2 separate regions of the Homo sapiens genome follow, and region 1 is linked to region 2. The links come from fine-mapping of genetic effects on gene expression. A gene starts in region 2. The other region holds a variant in brackets. All regions are shown on one strand. Distances are between the middles of the regions.

Region 1 (2,908 bases), 71 kb after region 2:
ACAGAGAGAGATGAGGCCCACAGGCTTCGGGTCCTTGGTCTTAGAGCTCTTGAGCCATTGTGGCTCAGACTGCAGATCTTAACACATCAGCGGGTTATGAAATCAATTTGGTGAGCCACAGCCAGCATCGCAGGAAGAAAAGTAATAGAATCGAAAATACCAGAGTGTGTTGCACATGAGGTCAGTGTGGTTTTTTGAAACTTTTATTTGAAGTTTTATAAAGGTGTACACTGCACTGCATTGCAAAACAGGTTTCTTACTGTGAGTCTTGGTTGAAGAATTCGAAAGCCACTGTTTTTAGTCCCTGTGAAAGTTTGGAATTTAGCCCAAGGGGCAGTGGGGAGCAATTAAAGAGGTTTTAGTGGGGGGCATGACAAGGTCAGATGTATGTTTAAAAATCTCACTCCAGGAGTGTGGAGAACAGATTTGGAGGAGGTGGGCAGTGGAGGCTGGGAGGCGTCTTGGCAGGCTGTTGGAGGCAGTCACTGGGGTGTGACAAAGAGAACCAAGTAGCACCTGGCACACAGAGGTCCGCAGGTGGCTGTTGAAGGGATGCACGTGTCTGCAACATGGGAGGATCCTGGGAGGTTGAAAGGCAACATTTCAAGCTTTGCCTCCAACCCCTCCCTGGGATGACCACCTACTTGTCACCTGTCCTGTGACGCAGGTATCCCAGGCATGGCAGATAATAGACTCTGATTTTAACACTTCCTGTTTGCCAGACACTCTGCTAAATGCTTTCAAAACTCATGTAATGCCCTCAGAACAACCCCATTGGTAAGTACTGTTAGGATTCCCGTTTCACAGATGAGGAAACTGAGACCAAGAAAGGATGTTACTTGCCCAAGGTCACAGCGATCATCAAGCTGTGTAGCTGGCACTCCAGCCGGGCAGTGCGGCTCTAGAGTCTGTGTGCCCCAGCATCTGCTGCAGTCATGTGGGAGCCAAGCTGCTTGGGTTTGAATTTAGGGGATAATACACTGAGTACTCTCGTGAGGATTTAGTAAGGGACGGTCAGTGAGTAATACATTCAGGGCAGTAAGGGCCTGGAGCTTAGGACGTGCTAGATAAATGAGAGTGAGTTGTGCCACTAGACGCCCAACTTGTAGAGTTGGATTCAAATTCACGTAACTTGTGAACAGACGGTGGAACTGCCAGGGTTCGAATCCGCCTCTGACACTTAACTGCCTGCATCGCAGGAGTGTGGTACCAGCGCTGGCTCTTGTAATTAGGTGCTCTATGTCCAGTACTTAGAACTGAGCCCGACCTTGGTGAACCCTAAGCATGAGCCATTGATCCCACTGCTCAAGGTCATACAGGAATACAAGGGCCAAGGCTGGAGTTCAAACCCACAGCCAGCTTGCTACTGAGCAACTACAGCCCAGTGTAAAAAGGGCTTTAAACAGTCAAGTTAGGTTTTTCTCTGGCTCTTCGAATCCTTAATCCCTTCTCTCCATGTCTGCCCACCAGCAGTGTTCCCAAGTTAGAGCTTCCAGCCCAGGCAGGCCGCCAGAGTCACCAGGCACCCCAGGGCACAGAGACCCATCCACAGCCTTGGGCAAAGGTGGGGGGTTGGAGGGAAGCCTCTGAGAGAGCTGGAAGGTCCCAGCCCCGCAGTGGCCACCAGGTGCCAGGGCCTGGGCCTCACGCCTCATAGCTCCTGAGTCTGACCTAAGCGTGCCTTCTTCCCAGCGTGCAGAACTGTTTGCCTGGGCGTAGGTTGGAGACAGGTGACCCCACCTGGTTGGTTCAGGCCCACGCTTGTTCAGCCTCCTAGACGCTCTGAGTCTTGGCCTCCTGACTCCTCTGGGGTTGGCGCAGCCTTGCTTGCCTTGGCTCCCGTCC[G/A]CCGGGCTGTTCCCTGCACGTACGAGTGGCCCTTTAGAATGTGTTTGTCTGGTCAAGGTTGACAAACTTCCTGAGCCCACGTCTGTTGACTTTTGTGGGACCTTCTGGCTACCTGGCTGTCGCGGATGCTTCGCTCAAGCCCTGTCTTCTCTCTTGGGGTGTGGAGTCAGCTAAGAGGGCAGCAGAGCTGGCTGTGTTCACGGAATCCAGTGTCTGGAGAGAAAGCTGGTGCCCATGGCGGCTGGGACTGGCAAGTGAAAACTTGAAATTCCATGAATGTAGCACCTGGTGATTCTTTGGAGAACTTTAAAATGCAGCATGAGTATAAACTGTTCTTAACAACCAGGATATGAACGAGGCAACCTCTTACAGTCTTTTTTTCTTTTTCTTTTTTGGGATGGGATATCCCTCTGTTACTCAGGCTGGAGTGCAGTGGTGGCATCATAGCCTTGAGCTCCTGGGTTCACGTGATCCTGCCGCCTCCGCATCCCAAAGTGCTGGGATTACAGGGATGAGCCACTGTGCCCAGCATACCGTTCATTCATTTGTTAATTCAGCAAAATACTATTCATCACATATTCTGTGGCAGGTGCTGTTCTAAGCACAGGGATAGAGCAGGAACAATCTAGCTACAGCCTCTGTTCTCATGGAGCATGTTAAGGTCTCCAGCAACACTGTCCGAGAAAAATATAACATGCTTTACCAGTGTGAGCCACATATGTAACTGCAAATTTTCTAGTAGCCTTGTTAAAAAAAATATGTAAAACAGCAGGCCTGGCGCGGTGGCTCACACCTGTAATCCCAGTACTTTGGGAGGCCGAGGTGGGCGGATCACGAGGTCAGGACATCGAGACCGTCCTGGCTAACACGGTGAAACCCTGTCTCTACTCAAAATACAAAAAAAATTAGCCGGGCATGGTGGTGGGTGCCTGTAGTCCCAGCTACTTAGGAGGCTGAGGCAGGAGAATGGTGTCAACCTGGGAGGCGGACCTTGCAGTGAGTCGGTATCATATTGTGCCACTGCACTCCAGCCTGGGCGACAGAGCGAGACTCCATCTCAAAA
Region 2 (2,908 bases):
TGAAAATTACCACAAACATCACAAAATTCCCAACTCAACTTTCCTCCAAAATGCCAGCAGCCACCTGACACCACCCTACTCAAGGGCAAGTTGGGGGTGGGGAATCGGAGTGGAAAGACAGCGGTGTCTACGGCCTGCAGCCAAATGTCCAAAGCAAAGGACTTTTGTAAACTTTACATCAACAAGCCACCATCTGAACACTTTTCTAAGTCCCCTTAGAAAGGGGTCCAAGCAAGTCAGGGGCCCAAGAACTTAACCTTCATCAGCTCCTGTAAACTTACAACTGGAATTGAAGACTGTTACGGCTCAAGAGCAACGGCTTTGGAGTCAGCCAGGCCTGAATTTCATTCCTGGCTCAGCCACTTTCTGCCTTCTTTGAGCTTGGACCTGCTCATTTGTGAAATGAGTGTGCTGACAGCAGCTACCTTGGGGTCTCTCTTGGGGATTACATGAGATAAGGAAGAGTTGGGCATTGGATGAGCTTAAGGTTGCAAATAAAAATATAGGACCCCCGGTTACATTGGAATTTCGGAGACAAAAGAAATACTTTTTAAATATAAGTACGTACAACCAATCGCATAAGACATATACTGCAACTGATTCCTCGTTTCTCTGAAATTCAAATTCACCTGGGTGCCCTGTCTTTTACTGCACTTAAGAAATGACAGTGGTTGATATTGCTTTTGGATTGAAGCATCCTGGGTGTCCCACGGTGGAATTCATAGACATTAGAGAGTGGGTGACGGGCTAGGAAAGGCTGCATAGACTCCAATTAACACAGTTCATTGCCAGGGAGACTAAAAGGGGGGTGGCTATGAGAGGATGGAGTAAGTGGGGTGCCTTGATTTGGGCATGTAGGTGGAGGGGGCTATACCTCTCACTTTCACTAAACCAGTTAAGCTCTTGAGACCTCAGTTTCCTTAGCTGTAAAATGGGTGAAACATAGGGGAGACCCCTGAACCGTTCTCACCTAAATACCACACCAATGGCACTTCCTCATAATTCAGATGTCACCTCCTCAGAGAGGTCTTCCCTGACTGCTCTAGCTAAAATTACCGCCTCTCCTCCACTCCCCAACAGCAGATACATATATTATTTTTCTCCCTGTAACTCTAACTTTCTGAAACTGTCTTGCTTCTTTACTTGGTTATTTGTTTATGGTTTGCCTCTCCATGTGAATGCAAGTTCCGGGAGGGCAGAAAACTAGTCTGTCTTGTTCTAGCTGAGTCTCTCAGGAGTGGTACCTGGCACAGTAGATGCTCAATATATTTTGAATGAATGAATGGGTGGTTGAGTGAACGAATGTTAGTGTCACTATTGAGGTCCTCTCCGAGCCGTCGTTCCTTTCACAGGGGTCATGCCTGGGTTGCAGGGAGGATGTGCTGCCCCGGGGAGGGAGGAGGTGCGGGGTGTCGGTGGGTGGGGAGGAGGCTGGGCCCTGGCCTCCAGGACCGGCGAGAGTGAGCGCGCTCTGCTCGGCTGCAGGCTCAGGAAGCGGCGCGGCGGCACGTGCTGGGCCAGAGCCCCGCGCCCTGCGTCCAGCCGCCGGGTGTGTGCGCCCGCGTAGCCCAGCGTCGCGCCTCGGCGCCCCCACGCGCCCACGCAGCGGCGCGGGGACCCGGGCGGGGGCAGAGGGAGGGCCCGGCCCAGGGAGGAGAAGGGGCCGGTCCTCCCGGCGCAGGCAGCAGCCGCGGCAGCCCAGGAGGCGGAGGCAGCGGCAACGGCAGAGACAGCAACGTGCCCGCCGCAGTCAGCCCGGCCTCGTCGGACCCGCACCGGCCCGCCCGCCCGCCCGCACCGCGTCGGGGCGCCCTCTCCACTGCGCGCGGTGAGTACCGCCAGCGGCGCCCACCCCAGGCCGCCCGCCGGGATTCGCCGGGCGGGGGGAGTTGTTCACCGGGACCCCCTCGCCCTGCGCCTCTTTCTGGCACTCGCCAAGCGGGGCCTCCGCAGCTGTCGGGACGTTCTGGGGCGCACGGGCCTCCCAGGGCCAGGAAGGCACAAGGGCAGAGGGGACAGCAGCAGAGCCCCCCTCTGGAAAGGCTCTCCCAGGCTCGGGGCCCCAGTTTCCCCATGCGCTTTGGGGCAACGACCCTGAAGTTTGCTCTCCCGCGCGCGGGACAAGTGCATGGCGCGCAGGCGGTGTAGACGCGGCTGGGTCCTTGGCGTTTTGTTCGATTATGGTCCCGGCGGTTCGCGATAAGGGGCGCTCCCCCAGTCCGCAAACTCAAGCCCTCAGGTAGTGTTTATGGGATAACCAAGAAGCAGAGCCAACCGCTGGAATCCCGGCTTGGGGCTGGAACGGCCCGCTGAGACTTTGCCTTCTAGCTATTGATATATTTCTTTTCAAAAGTCCGTTTGCGCTCGGCCCGCTCTGGTTCAGGTCTGGGGCTTTGAACCGGGGCAGGGAATCCTGGCGCCTGCTGCGGGTAGAGTTGAAACTTAGAAAAGTTTACATCCGAAGGGTGTTTAGAAGGCGGCAAGGATTTCGTTGTAATGGGAGAAAGTGGGAAATGGAATTGTTTTTTAGTCATGAAGTCTGGAGGTTAAACGGCCGTGCTGGCCCAGGCTCCTTCAATATATTCCTGCCTGCCTCCCCCCCAGCAATAAATAGTTTATAAGCTCAAGGAATACTAGGAAAGCGTGACTGGTGAACGTACTCCTATCGCAAAAGACTCAGTGCGCTTTTCTCAGCTGTTGAACTGGAAGCGCCTTTTGCAGTGCGAGGTTCCTGCTTCCCCGAAGCCGAGGCTGAGAGTTGACAGCGTGCACCCTGCCGCGGTCTGAATTCTTTTTAAAAAGCAAGACCGATGCTGCGTTTTTATGGATACCCTTTTCTTTTCTTTCCCCTTCCCCGAAATGCTATGTAATCTTCAATTACTTTTTAAAATATAACGTGGAGGTATAA

Alleles and levels. Positions count from the first base shown, and alleles are read on the strand shown. Sizes are in standard deviations (SD) of each study's normalised expression.
For the expression in thyroid of the gene that starts at base 1,684 in region 2, G is the low allele of the variant in region 1 and A is the other (moderate effect, 0.50 SD a copy in GTEx).

What was found. PIP is the estimated chance that this variant, and not a neighbour inherited with it, causes the effect.
Region 1: its variant is fine-mapped to the expression of EYA2 in thyroid (GTEx, PIP 0.98).

What each region holds. Positions count from the first base shown.
Region 1 is chr20:46,963,911-46,966,818 of GRCh38, forward strand. All of the region lies in intron 1 of EYA2 (EYA transcriptional coactivator and phosphatase 2), which reads left to right. Among named protein-coding and RNA genes, the nearest start is that of EYA2-AS1, 64 kb to the left of the region's middle. The variant G/A (reference allele first, on the strand shown) is at 1,846.
Region 2 is chr20:46,893,160-46,896,067 of GRCh38, forward strand. EYA2 (EYA transcriptional coactivator and phosphatase 2) reads left to right here and starts at 1,684. Exons shown (of 16, transcript NM_005244.5): 1 at 1,684-1,828.